Regions from separate parts of the Homo sapiens genome. Here regions 1, 2 and 4 are each linked to region 3. A link means that fine-mapping ties the variant in region 3 to the plasma level of a protein whose gene starts in the linked region. Region 3 holds a variant in brackets. A gene starts in each other region. All regions are shown on their reverse strands.

What was found. PIP is the posterior inclusion probability: the model's chance that the variant is causal. The UK Biobank Pharma Proteomics Project read protein levels with antibody pairs (Olink). The fine-mapping took linkage between variants from a reference panel, not from the people measured, so its PIPs are less certain.
Region 1: S100A14 starts here. The variant in region 3 is fine-mapped to the plasma level of the S100A14 protein (UK Biobank, PIP above 0.99).
Region 2: it holds the start of SLC51B, and the variant in region 3 is fine-mapped to the plasma level of the SLC51B protein (UK Biobank, PIP above 0.99).
Region 4: it holds the start of TSPAN8, and the variant in region 3 is fine-mapped to the plasma level of the TSPAN8 protein (UK Biobank, PIP above 0.99).

Annotation. Positions count from the first base shown.
Region 1 is chr1:153,616,067-153,620,499 of GRCh38, reverse strand. It overlaps S100A14 (S100 calcium binding protein A14), which reads left to right and starts at 4,175. Exons shown (of 4, transcript NM_020672.3): 1 at 4,175-4,205. It overlaps S100A13 (S100 calcium binding protein A13), which reads left to right. Exons shown (of 3, transcript NM_001024211.2): 3 at 1,462-1,701. The coding sequence ends at 1,605. RefSeq lists a silencer at 4,006-4,055 and an enhancer at 3,736-4,236.
Region 2 is chr15:65,040,250-65,047,907 of GRCh38, reverse strand. It overlaps SLC51B (SLC51 subunit beta), which reads right to left and starts at 2,521. Exons shown (of 4, transcript NM_178859.4): 1 at 2,326-2,521. It also overlaps a transcript of RASL12 not described here.
Region 3 is chr13:103,054,698-103,062,717 of GRCh38, reverse strand. SLC10A2 (solute carrier family 10 member 2) reads left to right here. Exons shown (of 6, transcript NM_000452.3): 2 at 4,336-4,454. Among named protein-coding and RNA genes, the nearest start is that of SLC10A2, 7.7 kb to the left of the region's middle. The variant C/T (reference allele first, on the strand shown) is at 4,383.
Region 4 is chr12:71,154,798-71,162,817 of GRCh38, reverse strand. TSPAN8 (tetraspanin 8) reads left to right here and starts at 4,819. Exons shown (of 9, transcript NM_004616.3): 1 at 4,819-4,888; 2 at 5,031-5,199. The coding sequence starts at 5,140.

The DNA.
Region 1 (4,433 bases), not on the chromosome of region 3:
CTTTGTTTTGTTTCTGTCACAGCTCTTTTTTTTTTTTTTTTTAGATAGTCTCACTCTGTCACCCAGGCTGGAGGGCAGTGGCTTGATCTCGGCTCACTACAGCCTCTGCCTCCCACACTCAAGCGATTCTTCTGATTCAGCCTCCCAAGTAGTTGGGACTACGGGTGTGCACTATCACACCGAGCTAATTTTTGTATTTTTTTTTCTTTTTTTGAGACAGAGTCCCACTCTGTAGCCCAGACTGGAGTGCAATGGCGCGATCTCTGCTCACCACAACCTCCGCCTCCCAGGTTCAAGCAATTCTCCTGTCTCAGCCTACCGAGTAGCTGGGATTACAGGCTCCCACCACCATATCTGGCTAATTTTTGTATTTTTAGTAGAGGCAGGGTTTCACCATGTTGGCCAGGCTGGTCTCAAACTCCTGACCTCAAGTGATCCGCCCACCTCAGCCTCCCAAAGCGTTGAGATTACAGGCGTGAGCCACCGCACCCTTCCTGCTTCTTCTTTCTTAATACTTATTTATTTCTCTTTACTGATTGAATGCACCCCCAATATAATGTTACAGTAGCCATCCTTGCCTTCCACTGGCAGTGCTTATAGTATTTTATAATTAAACGTGGTTGTAACTTAAAAAAAAGTCTTTTTTAGTTCTTCTGTGAATCAGCTTTGTTCCCTTTAGAGATTCAGTGAGTCTTCTCTGTCTGCATCCAAATGTTGGTTCAAACCTTGAGCCTCACACCCTGCCTGAGGCACCCTTCTCTGGTTTGATGTTGAACTATTGTTCAACAGTCAACTTTTTGGTTGTGCTTGTTTATCTGGCAACAGGTCCTTCGATCAGGACATCCAGTTTACTGTTGCCATTGATTTCACAGGCCTATGAGAGATACCCTGTCAAGGGCCCCTAAAAACCCAGATACTCCATGCCCTTGCCATTCCCCTGATCTAGTGACCCAGCTGGATAAATGAAAAGACACAAGGGTTGTGCAAATGAGCAGCTAAGTACTGGGAGCTTCTCCAGCTTTCTGAGAAAGAGGAGGGTGGCCCCAGAAGGCTCTGACTGGGTCCAACCCTGCAGCATCTCCCTGAGATGCTGGCATTCCTTGGGCCGATCCCACAGCAGCTGCAGTGGTGTGCTGGTGAGAGAAGATTGTGTGGATTTCTTTCCAGCTTTGTATTCAGCGACAACCTGTTTGTGGTTTGTAAGCAGCCATCGTGGAAGTATTTACACAACGGCAAGCACTAGGACTCAGGCCCCCCCACCTTTCTCTGCTGGTGCTCCTTGGAGAGGCACCCCGTGGCGGTGCAGTTTTGGGGCTGCAGCCTCCTTCTTTAGAGAAGGGGCAGGTGCCACTGCTCTCTGAGGGAAGGGCCTTGAGAGAATAGCAGCTGACAGTTCTTCCCTCCCTACTTTCTCAAGAACCCCAGTTTCTAACTCTACCCTTCCCTTTGGTGTCTCCTCAGGATGTGGGCTCTCTTGATGAGAAGATGAAGAGCTTGGATGTGAATCAGGACTCGGAGCTCAAGTTCAATGAGTACTGGAGATTGATTGGGGAGCTGGCCAAGGAAATCAGGAAGAAGAAAGACCTGAAGATCAGGAAGAAGTAAAGCCGCCTGGCTGAGATGGGGTGGGCAGGGCAGAGCTGATCAGGGCCGAGCAGAACCGCACTCTTCCCAAATAAAGCTTCCTCCTTGAAACACAAATGTTTCTTACTTACACCCCATCCTGATTTCTTTTCTTGAGACCAGAGAGTGGGAAAGCTCTCTCTTGACCTGAGGATGGATCTGAAAATTATGAGCCCCTTGAGGACAGGGAATGTTATTCATCTTTGAATTCCGCAGCATCTAGCACCAGGTCTTGTACAGAGCAGGTGCCCAATAAATGGTTGAATGAATATATGAAAAGTAGAGGCAGAGGGCTGGGCACAGTGGCTCACGCCTGTAATCCTAGCACTTTGGGAGGCTGAGGTGGGTGGATCACTTGAGGTCAGGAGTTCGAGACCAGCTTGGCCAACATGGCTAAACCTCATCTCTATTAAAAATACAAAAATTAGCTGGGCTGGTGCCTGTAATCCCAGCTACTCAGGAGGCTGAGGCAGGAGAATCACTTGAACCCAGGAGGAGGAGTTTGCAGTGAGCCGAGATCGCACCATTGCACTCCAGCCTGGGCGATAGGAGCAAAACTCCATCTCAAAAACAAAAAACAAAACAAAACAAAAAGAAAAAAGAAAAGTAGGGGCAGAGATGTGGGGCAGGAGAGGTGACTCGGGCTCAGCTGCATGGTCCTGCTCTGCTTCTTTTTTCTTGGAGTTTGTCCGTTGGATGACAATGATAGTGGTGAACAGGTATGGAGGGCTTACTAAGTACCAGGTGCAGTGCTAAACATTTTGCCTGTATTGTCTTAGTTAATTCTCACAGTCCTTTGAGGAAGGCACTATTTTTAACTCCTGTATTAAAGATCAGGACACAGATCTTAGTTAAAGTCATAAAGACAAGAATAGGTGGATTTCAGAGCTCTGATTAACCAGGATCCTCTCTGGCTGGGTGCTCAGGAACACTAGGGCCTCCTCCCCTTACCCTCTGGAGCAGTGGGGAAGCCAGAAGGAGGGGCCCGATGTTCTGCTCAAGGACCGTGGGGTGAGGGTGTGGTGGTGCCACCGGAGGCAGAACTTGCCTTGCCTTCCTGGCTTGAGGGGCATATGGTGTACACGGCCACCACCAGAGGGAGCAGGGGCGGGCATCTCGGTGACCAGCCTCCCAGGGCTGTCACTGCCTCACTGGCAGGCATCCATGCAGGGCAGCTATGAGTCCAGAGGAACCTTTAGGCTGAGGGAGCTCCCTGACCCTCCGTTAGAGAGCCCCAGACTGAGACCTCAGAGAGACTCCCAGACTGGGAATCCAAAGGGCCATTGGCAGAGACATTCAAGAGGGGCTCCTGCACTGAAGGGCTCCCTTACCGTGAGAAGCCCTGTGAGGAACCCCCTAGCCTGAGCCTCCTCCTGAGGAACCCAGGCTAAGTCACTCTCAGAGGAACCCACAGGCTGAGAGACCCTCAGAGGGACCTGCAGGTTGAAGCCCTTCAGAGGAACTCTCAGAATGAGACATTGTTGGAAGGTCCTCTCCATTGAGACACACAGGGCCCCAGGTTGAGAAGGTGACATGAGGAGGGATGTAGTGGGGTGTGCTCTGATCTCAGCGTTTAGGAAAGGATCCTGGGAACTTTGGCTCTGGGCCGCACCCCATCCTTGCCCTGACTCATGCCTACTGCTCTGCCCTTCTTCCTACCCCCTCCCAGTGACTTCAGGTTCTAGGTGTCTGGGCCTGGGCAGGTGAGGAGGGCCACTGGGGTTGGGCTCTCTGGGATGTCATTCTGGGTCCTGGATGGGGGGCTGTTGCTCTGCAGCTGGGTTAGGGAAGGCATGGGGCTCTGAGGGAGGGAGAGAGAAACACGTGGCCCGACCAGTTTGGAGTTGGTGTTAGCTGCCAAGCAGCTCAAGTGGGCCTTGCATTTGTGCACTCTGGGCCGCTGAGGGGAGCTGAAGGGAGGTCAGGCAAACACTCACTCAATCTGCCTCCCTCCATCAGGCTGCCCTTCTCTGGCTTCCTCCTGATCCAAGTTCTCTACATTCATCTCTCTGCCTCCAGGACTGGTAAAGGCTGGGCTCTGGGATCCAGGCAGGCTTGAGTGTCAGTATCCAAGCTGGGCCTGACTGGGAGAAGTGTGCGTGTGCGTGTGTGTGTGTGTGTGTGTGCACGTGAGAGAGAGAGAGAGACAGACAGACACACATGGAGGGTACAGAGGCTCCTGCTTCTCCTTCCTGGTCACAGATTCAGACCCCCTCTCCTTCCCTGCCCTGCAGTTCGCCAGGGCCCTTCCACTTCCTAGGGTGACCCCATGAGGTCTCGAAGTCCTCTCTGTCTCCCCAGCCTTCTCGCTTCTCTTTCTCTGTGACTCTGCATGCTGATCGGAGGCCAGGGGTTTCCCAGCCCCAGCCCTCTGTGGCTCCCTCCTCGTGGCAGGGTCATGGTAGGCTCTGGAACTCTGGCCAGCGGAGGGTGGGGCCCATAAAGCTGGCTCATAGCCCAGGCTGCTGCAATAGCAGGGGTGGCTTAGGCCCAGCCCCCTGCCTCCCCTCCCTTCCCCCAGGTATAAGAGCTGAGCTCAGGTGAGCTGGCTCCTCCTGTCTTGTCTCAGCGGCTGCCAACAGGTAAGGAAACCCAAGGCTTTTCACCCAAATATACTGCCTGCTGTCCAGAGGGCACACTTAGGGTAAGAGCTGGGGGATCAGATCCTGGAGGTTGGTGTGTGTGTTTCAAGCAGAGGTGGGTGGTTGGAGGAGGTGGAAAGAATTAAGCTAAGGTGAGTTCCAAGGGATTCCCCCTAGATGCGTTGGCCTGGGGGATATGACCTTGGCTCCTGAAGCCCAGGCGGGGCC
Region 2 (7,658 bases), not on the chromosome of region 3:
CGTGCCTGGCCCTTTCTTAGACTTTCAAGGACTCACATGCACACTGCCTACTTACTCATTTGAGGGAGATTCTATCTATCTATCTATCTATCTATCTATCTATCTATCTATCATCTATCGATCTATCTGTCTATCTATCTATCTGCCTACCTACCCATCTAAAATCATGGAAAGACAAAGTTACAAGAATGGCCAACAGATGTGATCTTGTGTTCTAGCTCCAACTGACTGTCCAGAGCACTGTCCAAGAAGGATTGTGACATTCCATCCAGTCTCAGATGTAAGAGTGCCTGGATTGATTAGTAACATCAGCCACAGGCCCCTGTGCCATATGCAAACCCCTGAACTCACAAAGAAAAGTATTGAAGTTGAGAAACCAAACACAGTCTTCTTCTAGGGTGTGGGATGAGATTTAGACACATGGGATATTCATGTTGACCACTCCTGTATTGTGTGGTTTCTTATGCGTATACACTGCTTTCATGAGAACAATACATGTAATTCCATTTTTAATGTGTGTATATATTTCTATGTATATTTTGTCTATTTGTATGTATGTTTTTTTTTTTTTGAGATGGAGTTTTGTTTTTGCTGCCCAGGCTGGAGTGCAATGGTGTGATCTCGGCTCACTGCAACCACCGCCTCCCAGGTTCAAGAAATTCTCTTGCCTCAGCCTCCTGAGTAGCTGGGACTACAGGCATGTGCCACCACACCTGGCTAATTTTTGTATTTTTAGTAGAGATGGGATTTCACCATGTTTGCCAGGTTGGTGATCCGCCTACCTCAGCCTCCCAAAGTGCTGGGATTACAGGTGTGAGCCACTGCACCCAGCCTTTGTATGCATTTTTAAATGTAGGTATTATTGTACTTATACCTTTTGAGACAACAATTCCAATTTTTGATATTTAATTAATGGAACTAATCAGATCAGTGTACAAAGACGCAGGTAAGCTATTGTCCACAGTGGAGTGGTGTTTTTTTGTTTTTTGTTTTTTGAGACAGAGTCTGGCTCTGTCACCCAGGCTGGAGTGCAATGGCACCATCTTGGCTCACTGCAACCTCCATCTCCCGGGCACAGGCGATCCTCTCACCTCAGCCTCCTGAGCAGCTGGTACAACAGGCATGTGCCACCACGCCCGGCTAATTTTTGTATTTTTTGTAGCGATGGGGTTTCATCATCTTGCCCAGGCCAGCCTTGAACTTCTGAGTTCAAGCGACCTGCCCACCTTGTCCTCCCAAAATGCTGGGATTACAGGCATGAGCCACCGCGCCTGGCCAAAATATGTTTAAAATATGTTTAATATTGTTACAGTAAACACATACCAACCAACAAAAAACCAAAATGACAAATTGGATACAAATCCAGAACCGAGAGTCAGCCCTCCTCAGCTATGTTAGATGCCACAGAAACAAGCGACATATTTCTTTCTTTTTTTTGAGACAGAGTTTCACTCTTTTTGCCCAGGCTGGAGTGCAATGGCATGATCTCAGCTCACTGCAACCTCCACCTCCCAGGTTCAAGTGATTCTCCTGCCTCAGCCTCCCAAGTAGCTGTGATTATAGGCATCCACCACCATGCCCAGCTAATTTTGTATTTATTTATTTAGAGACAGAGTTTCACTCTTGTTGCCCAGGCTGGAGTGTAGTGGCACCATCTCAGCTCACTGCAACCTCCGCCTCCCGAGTTCAAGTGATCCTCCTGCCTCAGCTTCCTGAGTAGCTGGGATTATAGGTGCCCGCCACCACATCCAGCTAATTTTTGTATTATTAGTAGAGACAGCATTTCACCACATTGGCCAGGCTGGTCTCGGAACTCCTGACCTGAGGTGATCCATCTGCCTCGGCCTCCCAAAGTGCTGGGATTACAGGCATGAGCCACCGCACCCGGCCAATTTTGTATTTTTAGTAGAGATGGGGTTTCACCACGTTAGCCGGGGTGGTCTCGAACTCCTGACCTCAGGTGATCGGCCTGCCTCGGCCTCCAAAAGTGCTGGAATTACAGGCGTGAGCCACTGCGCCCGGCCAAAGACATATTTCTATCAAAGCACGTATCCAGTTTGCTTCTAAAGTGAGCATCATATTGTCATTTGCATGATTAAATTAAACTTTATGCCTTATTTGCATTTTGTTAGTTTTGCCTTTAATGTTCTTTTCTTGTTCCAGGATCCCATTTAGGATGTCATACTGCATTTAGTTGTCTTGTCTCCTTAAGCCCCTCTGGGAGATCTCTGCATTTTAAACAGGGCTTAACCATCGTGCCATTGGACTGTGACTTCTGCCAAAGACCTGGGCCACCCATCCCCAAGGCAAGATGAGGACACTCACCCCGGATCCTGAGTTCCTGACGACTGCCTTGATCTGCTGTTGGGAGCAGCACCGATTTCTGTATCTTCCTTTTCCTCCTCTTTATGGGAGAACAGGATAGTCTTTGCACTTGAGCTCTCCCAGGCAGTAACAGCTGTCACTTAGGGGACAGTGCCTGGAGAGCCTGCGGCAGCTGGACCCATCTGGTAGCTCTGGCCTTAGCACACGCCCAGGCCTGGAGCCTTCTGTATCACTCCAGGGTGACTGACCTCTTGAATGAGTGCACTCAGAGTGCAAACAGGCTCCACCTGACTTTCACAATCCGAAAGCACCAGTAGCCCAGTGCTTTCATTGTTATGTGTTGGCCTCAAGTAAAGAGAAAACATCCGGATCCTCTGGACAGGCAGGAGAATGGACTGCAGAGGACCTGCGGTCTGTGGGTTCCATCACTGCAGGGGGATATGTAGTGTGCCCACTCCAGGTCTCTATTGCCCAATATCATCAATATTTAACCACGGAGCAGGGAGCCAGGCTGGCCTTTTACAGCCTGTGCTTTCTCATAGTGAAGGTCATGGCATGATGTGAATTCCTCACAAGGAGCTGTAAAATATGACCTTTGGAGGTGGGGGTTGGGAAAGGCTGTGTGAGCACCAGTGACCCAGAGAGTAGGAAGCAGGCCAAGGCAAGTAACTTGATGGGGAAGCAGGAATGAGGTGCTCCTCCCACCTGACCAGCACCATTCAACTCTGATAGTCTATGGACTTTTCCACCAACTGGCTCCGTGCATCTTAGGCAATCATTGTTGGTTTAGCAAGGAGTGGGCTTATGTGAAATAAGCCCACTCCTTTTTTTTTTTTTTTTTTTTTTTTGAGATGGAGTCTCGCTGTGTCACCCAGGCTGGAGAGCAGTGGCACAATCTTGGCTCACTGCAACCTCCACCTCCCCGGTTCAAGCAATTCTCCTGCCTCAGCCTCCTGAGTAGCTGGGACTACAAGTATGTGCCATCATGCCCGGCTAATTTTTTCTATTTTTAGTAGAGATGGTGTTTCACCGTGTTAGCCAGGATAGTCTTGATCTCCTGACCTCGTGATCTGCCCACCTCAGACTCCCAAAGTGCTGGGATTACAGGCATGAGCCACCACGCCCAGCCGCCCACTCTTATTTCTTACTTCACAAATGAAACAGAGGCTGAGTGAGGTCACATGTCAAGCCCAAACTCCTCTATGAGTTAAACATTAGTCAACAGTGTGTACTGTGTGTGCATGGGGCAGAGGAAAGAAGACCCAACAGGGAATCTAGGGGCTGCCTGGAACTCCAGCTCCTCCTCATTTTGTAATGCATTCATTTATTCATTGAATAAATGTTACTTGAGCATCTACTGTGTAGATACATGGTAAATAAGACAGGTGAGGGCCCTGCTCCATTGGAGCTCAAACTCCAGGGGAGATAGCCAACAAAAAAGTAAGCAAAAGCATAATTAAAAGATAATTATAGCAGTGATCATTTCTGTGAATATCTTAAACAACATAATAAGATAGAAAGGGATGAGGTGGGGGAGACATGATTACTATATTACTACACTAAAAACTGAATGATGAGGGGTTAACCATGCAAAGACCTGAAAAAGCAGGTACAAAGGCCAGGCGTGGTGGCTCATGCCTGTAATCCCAGCACTTTGGGAGGCCAAGGCAGGTGTATCACCTGAGGTCAGGAGTTCGAGACCAGCCTGACCAACAAGGTGAAACTCCGTCTCTACTAAAAATAAAAAAATTAGCCAGGTGTGGTGGCAGGCGCCTGTAGTCCCAGCTACTCAGGAGGCTGAGACAGGAGAACTGCTTGAACCCGGGAGGCGGAGGTTGCAGTGAGCTGAGATCGCACCACTGCACTCCAGCCTGGGCAACAGAGCAAGACTTCATCTCAGAAAAAAAAAGAAAAGAAAAGAAAGCAAGCAGGTACAAAGACACTGAAGAAATAATGAGCTTAATGTGTCTGGAACAAAAAGGTGGCCAATATAGCTGAATCATAGTGATGAGGGGGAAGTGGCATGGAATAAAGTCAGAGGACAGACAGGAGTATCCACTCCTCATGGTGGGCCTTGTAAAACAGGGTAAGGAGTTTGTATTTTACCCTAAAAGTGATGAGAAGCCACTGGAGGGTTTAGGCAGGAAAGTGACATAATCTAATTGACATTTGTCTAAGATCACTTGGCCTGCTGGGTGGAAAATGGATTGTAGGAGAGCAAGAGAGGAACAGGGAGACCATTGGGAGGCTGTTATATTCATCCAGGCAAAACATATTAGTAGTTTGGACCAGGCTGGTGGCAGTGGAGATGATGAGAAGTGGTCAGATTCAGGGTGCATTTTGGAGAGAAAGGTAGTTGATAGATTTCAAGAGAGAAGCTCAACACTAACTCTCTTAAACACAAAAGGAATTTATTGGCTCATAAACTAGGAAGGGCAGGGTGGAGCTGACCTGAGGCATACGGGAACCAGGGATTTGACGACCCGTAGTGCTTTGTTTCTGTGGCTCTTTCCCTGCTTTTCTCTGGGTGCCAGGCTCATTACCCCAGGCTGGCCACCTCCGGGAAGCTTGACCAGATGATAGGAAACCCAGGCTCATGCTCTCATAGCTGCAGAGGAAGTAGCTACTTTTCTTAGCTCTTGTTTAAAAATTCTTGGAAAGGACTCTAATTGTCCAGCCTGAGTCATGTACCTATGTCTTGGATCAATTGTTATGGCTAGGGAGGGGGGTACCACTGATAGCCAACTCAGAGCTCATCATGCCTGTTGGGTAGCCAGGAGAGACAGGCTGTGAGCTGGACAGCCCATGCCATGTGGGTGCCTGAAGGAACCATTTGACCTCAATCCCCCTTGTCTGCCTCTGAGGAGTGTTGTGGTGCTCTAATGGGATGGTGTCCCCTTAACAAGGAGCCTGCACAATCCCAGGTTTTCCACTCTTCTGCTTCTGTGTCTTTTCTCTCCCTCCTCTTACCCTAGCTCTTTCTACTACGGCCTATCCAATAACTTGTTCCATGGTTGCCATGTGCCAGGCATTATGCCAGTGATAAACAGTCGAAAGGATTGTCCCTGCCCTCATGGAGACTCCAGTCTAGCAGAACAGACAGACGGGTGTTCATCATGTCATCACAACTTCTGTGTGACAAGTGCCATGAAGGAAACGTACACATGGAGATGAGAGCACATCACCAAGCCCTCCTTTCCTCACAGCATCACTATCATTCCTGGCCAATCAATCCCACCTTGAAATCTCCTCTCCTGACTTCTCCAGTCTCTTATCTCCCTACCTAGAGGATGATAGACAGTCAGCAGTGTAGTGGAGTGGAAAGGGCTTTTGGTTTTCCTCTGCTATTCTGGTATCTGCCACCTGCTAACCCTTCAAGCCTCAGCTTAAATGTCATCTTCTTAGGGAGGCCTTCCATATCAGTTGAGAATTGTGTTTGGCTCTGGGTAACAAAGACCCAATGTCAGTGGTTTAAACCATAAGAGTTTATTTTCTCATAGAAGAATGTCAGAAGTAGCCAGTTATTAATGTCGTAAGACCAAGGAAATCAGGGCTGAGGTTTCTAAGACTCCCTCATGGCCCCTAGATGGCTGATGCAGCTCCTGCCATTATATCCAAGTTCCAAGCAGAAAAAAAAGCAAAAGGGAAGAAGGACAAAAAGGTGTGACCATGCTCTATAGTAAACGAATAACCTATCTGAGAGTAAACTCAGATAATACAGAGAACTAAGGTCAAGGGAGTTATTCCCAGAAAACAGTAGCAAGGGCAGCCAGGTGGGCTAACCAAAGAACTTACTCTACTGCCAGGGTGGAGGTCTTCACAGCTCATGCCCAGCAGGATTTGATAACTGTCATGGGCCTGTGCTGCTGTGTGGACTGTAGCACAGCCTGCTAATTTCCCCCTAGATTACATTCTTCCCTTCTTCCTTTTAATAAGAGAATCCTCTAAATTTTAGAGGCATATGGCCACCCAACTGGAAACTGCAGTTCCCAGGCCAGGCGTGGTGGTTCATGCCTATAATCCCAGCACTTTGGGAGGCCGAGGTGGTCGGATCACGAGGTCAGGAGTTCAAGACCAGCCTGGCCAACATGGTGATACCCCATCTCTCCTAAAAATACAAATTAGCCAGGCATGGTGGCGTGCACCTGTAATCCCAGCTACTCAGGAGGCTGAGGCAGGAGAATCGCTTGAACCTGGGAGGTGGCGTGAGCTGAGATCACGCCATTGTACTCCAGCCTGGGTGACAGAGCAAGACTCCATCTTAAAATAAATAAATAAATTAATTAATTAAAAAAATTAATGAACCTGCATTTCCCAGATTCCCTGCAGTCATAAGTGGTCCTCTAAGTTTTGGCCGAAAGAGACCTGAGAAGTGATTGCAACTTCAGAATCACTATTTTTTTTTTTTTGAAATTTATACAAACTTTTTTTTGTTGGAGTATACATATAGGAAAGTACACAAATGGTAAGCTTAGTGAATTTTCACATGTGGACACACTCATGCATGGGAACATATGCCATCCAGATCAACAAATAAAACAATTGCACCATTGCATCCTGTACTCCAGCCTAAGCAACAGAGTAAGACCCTGTCTCTAAAAGAAAAAAAGAAAAAGAAATAGAACATTTCCAGATCTCAGAAGTCTTCTCTTGTCACTATCCCTTACAAAGGCAACCTGACTTTTAATACCATAGATTAATTTTGTCTGTTTTTATACTTTATATAAATGTAATCAATCAATATGCAATCTTTTGTGTCAGCTTCTTTTGCTCTACATTATACTTGTGAGATTCATCCGCGTTGTGTGTAGTTGTGGTTCATTCATTCTTGTTGTAGCGTAGTATTCTATTGTGTGACTATGCTGCACTATTTCTACCTGTGGATCATGTTTTTGTGAGAAAATTCAACCCCTCCACTTCCTCATTCCTCTTTCTGGAACACAGATATGATGGTGGAAAGGACATGTCAGGACAGGGGTTGTTAACCTATGGGCCAGATCTTTCTCTTTTTTTGAGATGGAGTGTCGCTCTGTTGCCAGGCTGGAGTGCAGTGGGGAGATCTTGGCTCACTGCAATCTCTGCCTCCCGGGTTCAATCGAGTCTCCTTCCTCAGCCTCCCAAGTGGTTGGGACTACAGGCACGTACCACCACGCCCAGCTAATTTTTGTATTTTTAGTAGAGATGGGGTTTCACCATGTTGGTCAGGATGTTCTCAATCTCTTGACCTCATGATCCGCCCGCCTTGGCCTCCCAAAATGCTGGGATTACAGGCGTGAGCCACCGCACCTGGCCTATGGGCCAAATCTGACCTGCAGCCTGGTTTTGTAAAAAAA
Region 3 (8,020 bases):
CAGCTTCCAGTGCAGCATTCATTGATATTTTAGATATTCAAGAAATCTCACCCTGTAGCTTACCACAAATTCACAGCAATCAATCCTTCCTATGTCAACCCCATAAATGTCCTTCTCTTCTCTACTCTGGGAGACCTAACCCAAAACCATTCGGCTTTTTCCTTTATTCTCCCTAAAAGTAACCAAACATTGTTTCTCTCCAGTAGCACTGATTTTACTAGCTAATATTTATTAAACACTAGTATATGCCATGCACAGTGCTAAGTACTCAAAATAAGTTGGTATATTTCATCCTCCCAAGAATCCTCTAAAGTTAGTACTATTATTTTCTGCATTTGGCAGATAATGAAGTTAAGATTCATAACCTTGACCAAGGTCATTGAGTCAATGTATGCCTGAGTCAGAATTGGAATCACCCAGGTCTACCCACTACCACTTTGCAGGCTCATAAGCTTTCTCTACACTGCTTCTATCACTTTTCACTTCTCCAGTTTCTAGCACTGCCTATATACGCTACGTTAGAGCCTTCAAACTTGGTATTTTACTTCTAATATGATTACAATCTTTTACATTGCTTAACACTGATTTCACTGAATTCCTCAACATTCACTAAATTTACATTTATTCTTTCTTTTATTTCCATACACACAAAAGAAAATCTCCCTGGCAGTTAATAGAGCTGAAGTCAAAATTAAGACCAAGATTTTTTTTTTATTTTTCTTATACTTGACTCTTTTCTGTCAGTCTAATATAAATTCAAGGCAGTGTATGTATTTTTTATATACATGCCTTTTATAGAACTTCAGATTTTTTCGTGTAAGATAATATTTTCTTTTGCTAATTTAGGCTTCTATATTATTTCTTAAAATTCGTTATCTGTGAATTGTTTTAAATCTCATTTTGAGTGGTTTGATTTTGTTCTTATATTCATTCAAATAGCATCAACTTCCAGCTACCTATTCGTCTGTTCATCTGCAAGGTCTCTTCGTCAGTGCTGCTCACAAGTCTAAACCTTTCCTTCTCCAAACCCTCTTTTGTCCCTCATCACGATCCTTAAGAAACTGCTCTCACCAAACTCAAAATTATGATACAACGTCATAGATTGTCTTAGCAATATTCAGAATTAAAGGTTTTGCAAGGATCTTTGAAAAAAAAACAAAGACAGAAAAAGACTTCCTTCTTAAACATTTTCTCACATTTTAAAACAAAAATTCTCAGACTTCTCTTCACTGGAACCCAGTTAATAAATCCTCCTCACTTCCCCACCAGATTCCCACCACACTCTAGAAAAAAATATTGGATGCACAGAAAAAAAAGTGATTTTATTATAGGGACAACTTTAAATCCATTCTAATATATTTTTTAAAATAAAATAAAAAAAAAGAGAACACTGAAAGAAGAGAGGAAGGAACAGAGAAAAAAATTACCTTCAAACTCCAGTACTTTCATTATAAGTAGGACAAAGTACTATTAATAACAAATTAACTTGTTTGTCTGGTGTACAATTCTGCCTTAGCATCTATTTCATGCCTAAATTTACCTATAACCAGAATAGATTGAACTGCTTAAAGTTTTAAATACATCCACATTATTTGTTACTGTTGTAATATTTTAGCTCTACTAAAACAAGTATTTTTATCTAAATTATTTAAGCCTATTTTAAATGAGGTCATTCTGGTTAAAAATAAATATATTATTAGAGAAGTTAAGCTCTCTGATGAACTTTGTCCCACCCTGTATTTTGCCAAACTGTGCAAATTTAACTGTGCCTTGAAACAAAATTTCTCATTGTTAGCTCCTTTCTTAGTATAGTGTGTTGTTGTTGTTGTTGTTTTGGGGGGCAGGTAATATAAATATTTAACATTTTCTTTCAAGTACACCCATAATACCCTTAAGAAATTACTACTCTTGACAACCTCAATGACGACCTGTTGAGAGAAGGGCCTTTCAGAGAAATTTCTCATTTCTCTAAGTTTCCCGATTCTATTTGGTGGAACACAAGATACAAAAACATGGTAACATAAATGATCACAGCAGAGAGATGCAGGGTGCGGTGGCTCCCGCCTGTAATCCCAGCACTTTGGAAGGCCTAGGCGAGCGGATCACCTGAGCCCAGGAGTTTGAGACCAGCCTGGACAACATGGTGAAACCCCATCTCTACAAAAAATTTAAAAATTAGCCTGGCATGGTGGCTCATGCCTGTATTCCCAGCTACTCGGGAGGCTGAGGTGCAAAGATCACTTGAGCCCAGGCTTCAGTGAGCCAAGTTGGTGACCCTGTACTCTGGCCTGGGTGACAGAGAGAGACCCTATTTAAAAAAAAAAAAAAAAAAAAAATGGTAGTAGCAACCAGCTCTTAATAGAGTGCTTTGCATTGGTCTAAGTGCCGGACACCATTGGCTCATTCTATCCTTACAGCCATTTTAGATAAGGAAACTGGTAAAGAGAAGTCAACTAAATTACTCAAATTAACACACTAAGTGGCACCGCCTGCTTTCAGCCCAGACAGTGTGTGGCTTTAGAGCTCAGGCTTTAAAGGCAGAGAATGTACGCTGTGTACAGATCCCTTTGAAGAGGACCCGGAAGACTCACTCCCCAAAAATCTTTCTTTGACCCACTGTCCTAGTACTAGAGATAGCATCATTTGGCATTAATGTCTCCATGTAGATAGCCTACTCAGCCAGACCCTCTTATTAAAATGCAAACACTCTGAGCAGGGATGATACCAGACACTAGTTCTTCTGAACACACATTTGCCAAATTGCCAATAACTTACTCAGTGCTAAGAATTTATGTCTACCCTGCCGCTTGCATGCTTTCTTTTGATTTTTAAGTCAGCTTCCGCTTCTTGTCCCAAGCTAGGGTCACTTGGGCAGTAATTTTTCTGCTTTATGGCAACACAGCGAGGCCTCCTCCCTCGGACATGCATTCTATTCCAGGGGCCCAGGGAGGCCCATTCCATCTCAGCATGGTCAGACACATGCAGCCTTGGTGGTGTCAGCTGCTTTAAATGTGTTTGCTGTTCTTTGATTGAATGTTTGAAGGATGGCACACCCAGCGAACCTTATACATTATTTAATGATGACTTTAACCCATCGTTTAATACTGTTTCTGACCCTTAAGAATAAAAGGGGAGGGAAGGACGGCACAAGGCAAAGTGGAAAGACACCAAATATGGCCCATTTTGCTCAAGGCCAGGCCCTGAATACACTCAGGCACATAGGCACATGTATATTACTGTTCATCACACCAGACGATGCTACAGGTTGAGACAGATTCTTGCAGGACTTTCTTATCATGAATCGAAAATAAAAATTTTCTCCCATTCGGGAGGTTGTTTGTCTACTCTGCTTATAGTTTCCTTTGCTGTGCAGAAGCTCTTTAGTTTAATTAGATTCCAAGAAAACAATGAACAAACCCATTAAAAAGTGGGCAAATGACATGAACGGATGCTTCTCAAAAGAAGTCACACATGCAGCCAACAATCATATGAAAAAAAGTTCAACATCACTGATCATTAGAGAAATGCAAATCAAAACCACAATGAAATGCCATATCACATCAGTCAGAATGGCTATTATTAAAAAGGCAAAAATTAACAGATGCTGGCGAGGTTACAGAGAAAAAGGAATACTTATCTTCTGTTGGTGGGAGTGTAAATTAGTTCATCCATTGCGGAAAGCAGTGTGGCAATTCCTCAAAGACCTAAAAACAGAAATACACTCAACCCATCAATCCCATTACTGGGTATATACCCAAAAGAATACAAATCGTTCTATTATAAAGACACATGCACACATATGTCCACCGCAGCACTATTTACAATGGCATACATATGGAATCAACCTAATTGCCCATCAATGATAGACTGGATAAAGAAAATGTGGTACATACACACCATGGAATACTATGCAGCCATAAAAATGGACTAGATCAAGTCTTTTGCAGGAACATGGATGGAGCTGGAGGCCATTATCCTTAGCAAAGTAACACAAGGACAGAAAACCAAATACTGCATGTTCTCACTTATAAGTGGGAGCTAAATGATGAGAACGCATGGACACATAGAGGGGAACACAGACACTGGGGCCTATTAGAGGGTGGAGGGTGGGAGGAAAGAGAGGATCAGGAAACATAACTAATGGGTACTAGGCTTAATACCTAGGCAATGAAATAATCTGTACAACAAACCCCCATGACACAAGTTGACCTATATAACAAACATGCACATATACCCCTAAACTTAAAATAAAAGTTAAATTAAAAAATAAAAATAAAACAGCATCTTCCCTAGAACACCACAGGTGGATGTATCAATCTGCCCATTGCCTTTCAGCGTCAGCATGACCACATGCTCCACACTGCTTGCCCTCGGAATGATGC[C/T]GCTGTGCCTCCTTATCTATACCAAAATGTGGGTCGACTCTGGGAGCATCGTAATTCCCTATGATAACATAGGTAAGTCATCCATCTGTAAGACTGTTGACTGTTACCCTCAAACTCTCTGCTTACCCCCTGCTAGGCTCTCAGACCAGGCTCACACCTGACCGTTATTGCCCTAGTAGGAGTTTTTGCCTGATTTCATTATAAAGTCACCCCTGCGTTTGGAGAGTGATGGCAGAATGTAAATTCCAAACCTTGACCTTATGGGAGAACCTGTCTTTTCTTCAATTTGAATCACCAGGGAAAGGAGCCCCCTCCCCAGCCCTCAGTCTGGACTGAGGAGGCTTAAGCTTTGGGGACATGGGAGCTTGCACCTATTCCTTAACCCAGAGTGTCACTAGTTAATGGTCATAGGATTTTGCATCCAGACACTTGAATTGAAGAAATTTTTTTTTTTTTTGAGATGGAGTCTCACTCTGCCACCCAGCCTGGAGTGCAGGGGCGTGATCTCGGCTCACTGCAAATTTCACCCCCTGGGTTCAAGCAATTCTCCTGCCTCAGCCTCCCTAGTAGCTGGAATTACAAGCATGCACTACCACGCCTGGCTAATTTTTGTATTTTTAATAGGGACGGGGTTTCTCCATGTTGGTCAGGCTGGTCTCAAACTCCTGACCTCAAGTGATCTGCCGGCCTCAGCCTCCCAAAGTGGGATAACATGCATGAGCCACCACGCCCAGCCTGAAGAAATTTTTTAAAATCACATAATGGTTTCAAAATAGAGCACTGAGTAAGCAATCCAGAGTGTTACAACAGAAAACTGCTAGACGAAACACACTGTTTCTAACACTCGACTGTGAGCCACACCTTGACCCAAAAGTTGATTTAATGGCAAAGTCATGCTCCAGGAGTCAAATTTACTAGTAATGACTCTGTCTCATTTCACCCTCATCCCAAAAACCTTATTTTCTGTTTCTGGGGAAACAAATTATAGTGGGAGATTAAGTTATTGTTGTAACTTAGGGATGAGGGTCAAAGGAAGAACAAGAGAGTTCCTGGTATACCAGGAATAGGCATTTCCCACAGAACTATCACGAACAAAAGACAAGATGTGGGCAAAATAGTAAATCAGTAACAATCACCAGGTACACTATATGCCCCAAATACCTGGGTTTTTTTCCCCACTGACCTTGGAAAAAAATCCCAATGAGCTGCCTCAGAAAGGTGTGGGTTTCCCATTGAAGAAAGCATCCAAGCAAAGGCTAAATGATAAGCCACCTGGATGCTTGTAAAAGGGACTCCTATTGGGATAGGAAGCTGGGCTGAAATGCCTTCCATTTCTGAGAAAGACTGCTTCTGTGATTTAGGGTGATTGAGGGAATATACAACTGAATTAGAATAAACTTTGTGAATACTAATTGGGGATGATCTGTATTACAATGTTTGTAGCCTCTTCTCTCTCTCCTACTCTTACCATTACCATTAGACCAAAAAAAAAATTGTCCTCCTTGACATGCCCTATTCAGTATGGGCTTTTGATATACAAGATTCTTCAGACTCCAGGAGAGAACCTTAATATCATATATAACCTCCTGACAAGAGACTTTAGGGTGACCCTCCACTACCACCTGCTTTTGCCTTCATGCTGCTTGACTCTCTGGCTGCTCTGTCAGCGGACGCCTTCCATAGAGCTAAAAACCATAGTTTACGTGAGTGGTGACCATTATATCCCTCTCAAAGAACCTGTCTGCTGAGTGAGGAATTTTGATTCCACAATACTCACTGTAATAATTTAATAATTTAAGCCATAAAATATTCTCCTTTTGATATACATTCCCTTCTGAGAAATGACTCATGGAAATACTGAATAATTCTAACTGCAGTGTGAATGACTTATACCATATTCTGTGATGTGAATAAATTTTGAAATAAGGAGAAAATGAAAAATCAATTAGCACTTCAATGGAGGAAAAGGTCATCATAAGAGGTCAAGAGTGAAAAGAAAAGAAAAATAGGAAAAGAGAAAAGAAAACGGAAAAAGAGAGAAGTTTGAAAAACAAAGATATTGTTATATGTAAAATATTTATTCAGAAACAGAATACTTGTTCCTCAGTACCACAAGGAAAAATGAGCATTCAGACAAAAAGTTTTCTCAGCAAGGCAATTTTACTTTCTGCAGAAAGAGTGCTCCTCACAGATGGCACAATGGTGACAGCACACCTGAACAATGGAGGGAAGTAATTCGTATCCCTTATGCAGCTTGTCCCTGCTACTGTGTCCTGTCTCCATTGGCTGGAGCCAGACATCACAATCTAAGCTAAAACCTGACTGGCTAATAATTTAAAACTTTTCTAAATAGGTATAGGCAATAGACAACAAAGGAAAAGAGGACGTTGCTTGTGAAAGGACTTAGAAAAGTAATAATATTTCCAAATAAGGAAGGGGCATAGGCTGCAAGCTGGAATGTACCTGTGAGCATGTTCAGCATAAATATCTTGGTTAAAGTACAAGGACATAGAATGTACTTATTCCTTTATATCTAACAGCTACATAGAATAGGGCTTAACAAAGAGTTACTAGCACAAAGTAAGGGGGCTTGAAGAAAGTTAGTCTTTAAAAGAAATTATTATTTCTAATGTTTATTATTATTATTATTTTCCTTTAACAACAAGGGACACTTTGAAGAGGAAACTTTTTACTTTCTACAGATATTAACCCTGCTCACCATGTTTGCCCAGGCCTCCAAGCTCACCTTTTTGCTGTTGGTTTTTCTAGTTCTTTAACATAGAAAATAAATGAACTGACTGCTTCACAAGATGTTATCACTGCTTTCTAAATTGTGGCTCAGGGTGATTATTTGCCCAAGGTCACCAGGAAGCTGGAATAGCCCACAGTCTATTCTCTACACAGCTCTATGGGCAGACGTGTTTGGTACAACTTCATGCTCCAGTGATTCAGTAAACACCTGTGAGCCCCCTCAGATGCTGACATCTGGATCGAGAGGAGGCAGACCATGCAGCTGGTACCACTAAAATAAAACCACTGCTGCAAATTGTTGTACTTACTCCTCTCTACCCCACATTTTTAAGTGTCTTGTGCCAAGAAGTTTATAGCCATTTCATCATTTAATTCTCACAACAGCACTGTAAGGCAGACATAACTCCACCCATTTTACAAATGAGGAAACAAAAGCTCAGAGGGGTTCAATGATTTGCACAGTTCCCACAGTTTGGGAATACAGAAAGGTTCAGTTCCAAATCTATCTGGCTCCCAGTCCCACCACATGAATCCATTCACCACCACTCTCTTTCATTCTCATTCTTCTTTCTACCTTTCTTTCCTCTGATATCTACTGTGTAAACTTGATTAAAGACCAAGTTATGGATTCAATGTGTAACCATGAGTGGATGCTTTTTCATCTACATAGACAGGCACTTTACAGAGAGAACATGGGCATATGAGGCATACGTAAAACAAACAGAGCATGGGGAAAGAAAAGAGCAAGATCACCAGCCCACTGGAGACCAAAGTTACAACATCCACCTCTACAAGCAGAAGCCACACACTGTGGGTGTAAAGAAAGACAGAGTCCCTTTCCCAGTCAACCCCAGGTCCCTGAAAAACTTCATCTGGCCTCATCTGGT
Region 4 (8,020 bases), not on the chromosome of region 3:
GACACCATCTGTGTATGGCTCTGGCTTCTGTGCTGTTTTTTTTTTTTTTTCAGGGAGAGAGTTTTCTGATCAGCTACTGTCTTATGCTGGATGGATAGTCTGATGGGTGCATTTCTCATGATAAAGTAGGAAATTGACATTCTGGCTCCTGTGAGAGCTTTTAAGGTGAATCTTTCCCAAGAAGCAGATCACCCCTGGAAAAGCTGGCAAAGTGGAGCTTCAGGGCTGCCAAGCCAAGGACCTGACCCTGGTTCCCACCCAGCAGCTGGTCTCTTAACCTGCTGTAAAAGGAGTATAAATGCCATAGTGAGGCTTAATAAGAATCCACAGCATCTCTAATCTGCCATGGTTATAAACTGCATTTTTAATCACTGCACCATTTTGCCTCAATTTTCCTTATACACACATATTTTGGTGAGCTAAAGTCTGTTTCTTTCATACACATTTCCATATTTTTCCTTATGTGTCCTATATGGTAAATTTATGTCCAGGTGCAAGTCATTAATATTTTAGAATAAAGTATCTATAGAAGAGGAAGAATGTTGAATACTGGGTATCCATTTTCTGTAAACACTGTATTGCTACTTCACAATGACAATTCTAACCCCTACTTTAGTTCTGAGCTGGAATTAATACTCTCAAGTAGAGACAGTTGCTTTAAAATGTCCTGCAAAGAGAGGAGAGGCATCTTTCCCATACCGGATGCTTCCTATCTGGTGCATTTCCAGTGGGAATACATGAAAGGTTTTTATGAGCCAGGCTCCATAAGCACAGAGGGTAGGAAACAGAGCATTGGGATCACATGAAAGCAGAAGAAGAATATTGGTCTCAGGAAGGCTAGAATGGGACTAGAACACAAGAGCCAAGGCTCTGCTCCTGTAAAAGAGACCATAAAACCCCTAAGTGAGAACTCCAACTTTCCAAAAATAAAAAAGGTTTTTCAAAATGAGACATGCTAAAAGCACCAGAATCTCTTCACTCAAATTGTTCAGAGTGTATGATCTCATGTCCTTACATACACACCCCTCAGTACAGTCATAAGGAAGAGAAATCTCAACATTATGTTTTTATTGCTGCTGTTAGCCTTTGAGAACATGAATTGATTATTAACAACGTCATGAAAAACAAATAGTATAGAGGGACAGTGATAATGGGAGAGTATAAAAGACAAGAGAAAAAAATAATCTTTTCTCTACCACACATGAATTGCTTTTTTACTGTCTATTCCATGGACAAATATATCGGGTAACGAGATGTTGGAAACAAAAAGGCAAAGAAGTTACCTTTTCACCATGGTGTAAGGCCTAGGAAGGCAGGGATTTTTATCTTGTTTCATAAATTACTATGTTTCCAGCACTTAGTCTCATTCCTGGAATATGGTAAGGATTCAATACATCAGTTGAATAAATTTTTGAATATTATCTTATGGAGGAGAAGATGATATCATGATGAAAATATGAACTATCTATGCTTAATTTCTGGTCCAAGTCCCAAACGTAGGCCTGGTTTGCCTGATGACTTAGAGAAAATGCCATATTTTCTGTGGGGTATTTGATGGTACTACTCATGCACTTTCCTCTGCCCTGAGCATAAGGAATCTCTCTCTCTCTTTCTTTCCCCTGCATGGGTTCCCATACTGCTATCAAAATCTAGTTCACTGATGACTGCCTCATGGAGACTTTTCACAATTAATCAAATTGGAATCATTATCCTGCCTTACTCTGTGCATTTGCTGCAATGAATAGTAATTGGCATGATGGCAACATTAGAAAAACTTTATCTAAATTTACTTAGACTTTCCCTCTGTTCTTTCCCTCGATTGTCATTTCTTCTTATAATATTTCACTCTCCATTTCTTTCCTTACTGGCCCGGTCTTTCACAGGGTCTAAGATTTATTACTGACAATCTCCAACCCCTGCAACCTCCCACCACTGTTAAAATATCTGTTATATGAAAATTTCTCAATATCTAAGACACGTTAAATGAGTAATGAGTAAATGACTCATTCTCATACTACAGAACTCAAGAGATTGTTGACGCCAGTAGACAGAATACTGATCTGATAATCCTGTGACCTTGTTTCTAGAAGGAGATCTAACCAGTTTTGTGAACTTGGGCTACTCAATCTGCCTATGCTGCTCTTTTCTCAGGTGTAAGAGTGAGAGTTTGTCTAGAACAGTGCTTCTGTAAGTGCGTATGTGTGTTCTGTAACACCAGTCCTGAATATGTCATTCAAAAATATGTTCTGAGATTATATTCATTTCAGAATTGCTATATATCACCTCCTTGAATATTAGAAAGTTGAAGGCTCTGACAAGTCCTGAAATTAATAAACTGTTTTTCTTGACCTAATAGATTTTTTAAAGGCAGAGGTAGCATATTGGTAGTTCCCTAGAGAACCTAATGAGGAAATCACTAGTTGAACTTTCTGAGGAGCTTGGCTGCCATTGCAAATCTCTGTAGCTCTAATGCCAGCTACTGTAGGTACAGAGGTGAATAGGGTAAGATTTCTGCTTTTCAGGCATATAGAATCAAATGTGGGGGAGAGACACAAATAAATGTGATATAGTGGCAATTGTAGATTTAAGGTCTGTTCAAATAATAATGGACTTGAGGACTGAGAAGCAAGTAAATCTGCCCAGAGTGGGGGCAGAGGATGAGGAAGGGAAGGCTCCACAGGGATGTTGCAATAGAGAAGGTGGGAAAGGATATTCCAGGCAGAAGGAACAAGGCATAAAATCCAAAGGTGTGTTCTAGGCCTGGGAAATAATTCTGTGGTTATGGAGCCTAGAAGTGGAGGCTGCCTAGGAAGAAAGGGGAGGGACAAAATTCTGGAAAGTGGGTGGAGGACTTGTTTGCTGTGTGCTGTAAATGCTACTTTAAGGAATCTGAACTTTATCTTGTAGGTAAAAGGAAAATATCCTTAGATTGGGTTTTCATCATTATCATTACCTAATCAATAAGTATTTCTCAAAAAGAATTTTAAAGTGCTAAGGCAGAGAGGAACTGGGAGAAACTGCCAGGGAAATTAATTCTCATTCTATTGACACAGCTCAAGTAAGAAATGATAAAGGACTGAATAATGAAATGCAAAAGGATGAGATGGAAGAAATAGTTTTGACAGTAATTTAGGAGCTACACAGACCAGTAAGAGTGATTGGATGGAAAGAAAGAGAAATACAAAATATCTGTACAAATTCAGCCTGGGAGAGTGTTGTGTGATTATAACATTAATAGGAATAGGAATTTCCAGGAGTGAACTGTTTCATATAGGTTTTGAATTAGACTAGGGGTTCTATTACACAGTCATTCTCCTGTACAAACACATCCATTGATTTTTGTGTTACAGAGTTCAAGAGTGATTCAACTAAAGACTACACAGTATTCTTTTTAAGGATGTTCAGCATCCACCAAAATATCTATTTCAAACTAAAATTTGGTAGTATTCAATACATTCTTTTCAACAAAGCAGCATTTAAATCTGTAATTTTTTTTTAATTTTAGCCTCTGATAAATAATCATTTCTGGGACTATGAATCAATTTTGGTTTTCATTCAATCTGAAATTATTCTTTCAGCCTTGGATTATTCTATATACAAAATATCTCAATAGAAGGTTGTGAAACTATCCATTTTCTAGTAGGAAAGAGAACACAAACAATTTTAGTGATGATTTATATATTAAGCCATTATTTTTGGAATTAATCCTAAATTTGGCCTTTAACGCTATATATTATTGTTGATAATGCATTAAAATATATTGTATTTGTAGTCAGGGAGTAGAATTGTTTCAAAAACATTGTATGCCAGTGAAAATTAGAAATAATATTTTTCTTTTGTAAGGAGTTCATGCTTGCTTATCGTGTAAAACTTAGCAAAGATTCTAAAGAATAATTTTCTCAACAACCTTTTAAAGTAGAGGGTTCTTTTATTTAGGGGGAGAAGAACTCCCTTTGAGAGGCAGGATGTGGAAACTAACATGACCCAGGCTGTTTACACAAAGCAGTCCACACCTCCCTGATGATGTCGGAGCATTTTGCCTTTACCTGAGACAGCTGCCTTCTATTAGCACTAGAAACAAATAGTAAAATCTATGGTCACTGATCCATGACCACCTTCCCATTTTGAATTTTTTTGTCCGGGAGGACCTGGAATCCAGAAACTGAGTTGGTGGAGAACAGCTGTTGCTAGATACAATTTATCAGAGGAAGGAAATTACAGTGTCCACCTTAAAAACAAACCAAGCTATCAGAATGACTACGCATTATAAAATGAAAACAATGTTGCAGTCAGTGCCACTTTATGATTTCTTTCCCTTTGTATCATAAAGAAATAAAGATAAAAAGCAAATGGTCTTATCATGATAGGCAAGGCTGCCTCTCCCTCTGCAATTTCTGTGGTGTATTTACGGCAGCTCTGGAATTCTTTTGAAATAAATTTAGATGTTTTGGAGGGCAGATACATGTAATGGTTATTTTACTATTCTAGGTTTAATGATAACAGGTTGCTATGTCTAAGCTTTGATATTTTGCAGATTTCTAAATGCATTTTATTGCATTTAGAAGGAATTTTGTAGTATTGAGAAAATGCAATGCAAAAATGAGTAGAGATACAATGTCCATTTAACTCAGAACAAAACAACCTTATTTCCCCATAGTTGAAATGGAGGGCGGGGAAGTCAGGCAGTGGTTTCTGAAAGCCAAGAACTTAGTAGCACTGTGCCATTCTCTTGCCTGATCCAGTGCCATTCCCTTCACTTGATATCTGTTTACTTTAGAGGAGGCAGTTTTTGAGAAAGGATCATAAATATCCTGGCCCAGTGCCCCAGGAGCTATGACAAGCAAAGGAACATACTTGCCTGGAGATAGCCTTTGCGATATTTAAATGTGTGAGTTAATAGCCTTTGAGATATTTAAATGTGTGGGTTAATAGCCTTTGCGATATTTAAATGTGTGGGTTAATTTTTTTATCCAGTTTAATAACTTTTTATTCCTCCCTCTACTTCTTTGCTTTCTCTTTCTGCTCTGAAGCCGTGGATACAGAAATCTCTGCAGGCAAGTTGCTCCAGAGCATATTGCAGGACAAGCCTGTAACGAATAGTTAAATTCACGGCATCTGGATTCCTAATCCTTTTCCGAAATGGCAGGTGTGAGTGCCTGTATAAAATATTCTATGTTTACCTTCAACTTCTTGTTCTGGGTAAGTGTTTTCCTTTTAATTATCAATTTTATGCAAGAAAGGGGATCTTGATATAAATATCATAAACAAGAACAGACTGTACACTAGAGAAATAAGAGAAGGGGGAAAATGTATTTTCCATGTACTTGTTTGGATTTGTTTGTTCTTTCTTTGGTTATTTCAGTAATTGAAAATGAGCCAAGGACTCAAAAAAGTGCACTTCAGAATGTGAGGATAAACATTTCATAAATGTTTTCATATTGCTGCAAAAAAAAATCACAGAGGAACACAAATGCCCCTTAATTAAAGGACAATTTTCCTTAGTTGTATATCAAGCAGGCCTCCCTAATTTAAGGACTCTGTGGTAAAAACATGGTCTGATTCCATCCGGAGCCCGGGTCCTGATTCCCGCCCTTCACTTCTGGGTTTGAACAGGTGAATCGCAGGGTGTGGGACAATAAAGATCATTTTCAGAGCCTCAAAGACAAAAAAAATGGGTCATGAAAAACTTGAGGGGGAAATGATAAAATTCCTAAATCATAAGAAAATCAAACTAAGACCGTGGATATATATATGTATTGGCATTTTAAAGTCAGTATTTTGATGTGTCATCACCCTACCTTTTAATTGACAGGATTTGTATTTTAGCAATTTGTTATGTTTCTCTTGAAAGTCCATTGACATAGACATAACCAACAAATTGATAACTGATATCTATCAATAGATAATGGAAAAACAAGGTATGAAAAGAGCAGGCTGGGATGTTGGGACATTGACCTTATCATTTTTAGCATATATGGTACAATTAAAGATTGTTTAAATGTCAATCAGTGGAAATAGCACAAAGTATTTAAATGAAAAAAGTATTTTGTATACTGGATTAAAAGCTACCTTATCCACTCCAAGGATGAAAGAACTCTGGTTTTGTTTTTGTACCTGATCTTTAGTAAACAGACATCTCATACCTATGTGTTGCTATATTTCTGTTCTATTAAAATAATGATGAACTTAATTAAACTTAACTACATGAATACAGCTTTATTGTATAGACTGATTTTCCATTCAATGATCAGTAGTGCTAATGAGTACAAATGGATATATTGGTGACTTTTAAATAAGTAAGTAAATATTTAAAAAAGTAAAATAAAGAAGGCAAAAAAAATGGGCTGCTGTTTTTAGGTTAAAAAAATGGGCTGCTTTTGCAAATATTTAATGTAGCTCATGCTACATATATGCCAGTTTTTTAGTTAGTTCTGATACATTTCTTCCCTTGAGATACTTAAATTGATTAAACATTGGGAGCAGGTTATACAAAAAAAGAAAGACCTGTATTCTTTGGTTTTGTTTTGTTTCTAGTTTTTTTTTTGTTTGTTTTTTTTTTTTTTTTTTGGAGAACTTTGAATATTCACTAAAGAAGATAGGATAGGTAATCAACTCCATTGGCCAGCCCAGGTGGCCACAGAAAGATGGCCAATCTTTCTCCATTTTTACTGTATTCACTTCCCCCACCCCATATTATTTTGAAGCACATCTCAGATATATAATTTTGTCTGTAAGCATTTTAGTATATATCTCTGAAACATAATAATTCTTGAAAAAATGTAACCACAACCAGGCGCAGTGGCTCACGCCTGTAATCCCAGCACTTTGGGAGACCGAGATGGGTGGATCACAAGGTCAGGAGTTTGAGACCAGCCTGGCCAGCATGGTGAAACCCTGCCTCTACTAAAAATATGAAAAATTAGCCGGGCATGGTGGCACGCCCCTGTAGTCCCAGCTACTTGGGAGGCTGAGGCAGGAGAATTGCTTGAACCTGGCAGGGGGAGGTTGCAGTGAGCCGAGCTCGCACCACTGCACTCCAGCCTGGGCGACAGAGTGAGATTCCATCTCAGAAAAAAAAAAATGTTACCACAATATCATTATTACACTTTAAAAATTTAATAAGAATTTTTTAAATCAATTGTCAAATTGATTTGACAATTTTAATCAAACTGTCAAATTTGAGCCCATTCAGGGCTGAAATTTCCGATTACCTCATAAATGTTCCTGTTAGAATCAGGATCTAAATAAGGTCCACACTGTGTGGTTGGTTAATATATGTTTCATGTCTATTTTAATCTGTTGATTCTCCCTCAGTCAACATCTCTTTTTCTCCCTACTGAAATTTTATGCACTGGTGTGTGTTGTTTGTTTTATCACATTGCCCACAGTCTGGATTTTGCTGTTTGCATACCTGTGGTGCAGCCTGATACAATTCAAGGTCCTTTTTTTTTCACACGACAATCATAAGTGATTTTGTATTCTTTCATGAGGAGGCACTGGAGGTTTGATTGTGTCCCTCTTTTGTGACGTTCGTAGCCATTGATGGTCAAGTGCCAAAATCCATCATTAGTTCATTAAGTGGTTCAAAGTGATGATATTCTAGTTTCATCAACTTTTCTTTCTTTATTAGCTGGAACACTTTCTATAAGGAGAAACTTCTCATTTACTGTTTAATTACCTGGGTATCCCATTTTTAATATTTTTTAAGTGGCATAAAATACTTCTTTCTCACTCTTTACTTACCAGATTGCAAGTGATGAGTTAAGTTACTAATATTATCCAACAGTGATAAGTTAGTATTTCTTTAAGTATCCTTATGAAACAATAGATCAGCTCCATTACAATGTTTACCCTTATTAATGTGCAATTTGTTCCATCTCTGGCCATCAGGAGCTTCTTCAAGGTGACTCAAGTTCTTTTGAAATGATCCTAATAACTTTGATAGCCTCTTTAGTATTTGGTTTGACATGTTCCAGATCACTTGCTTATTTCCTGTCCAGACCTCGAATCAGCCATTTCT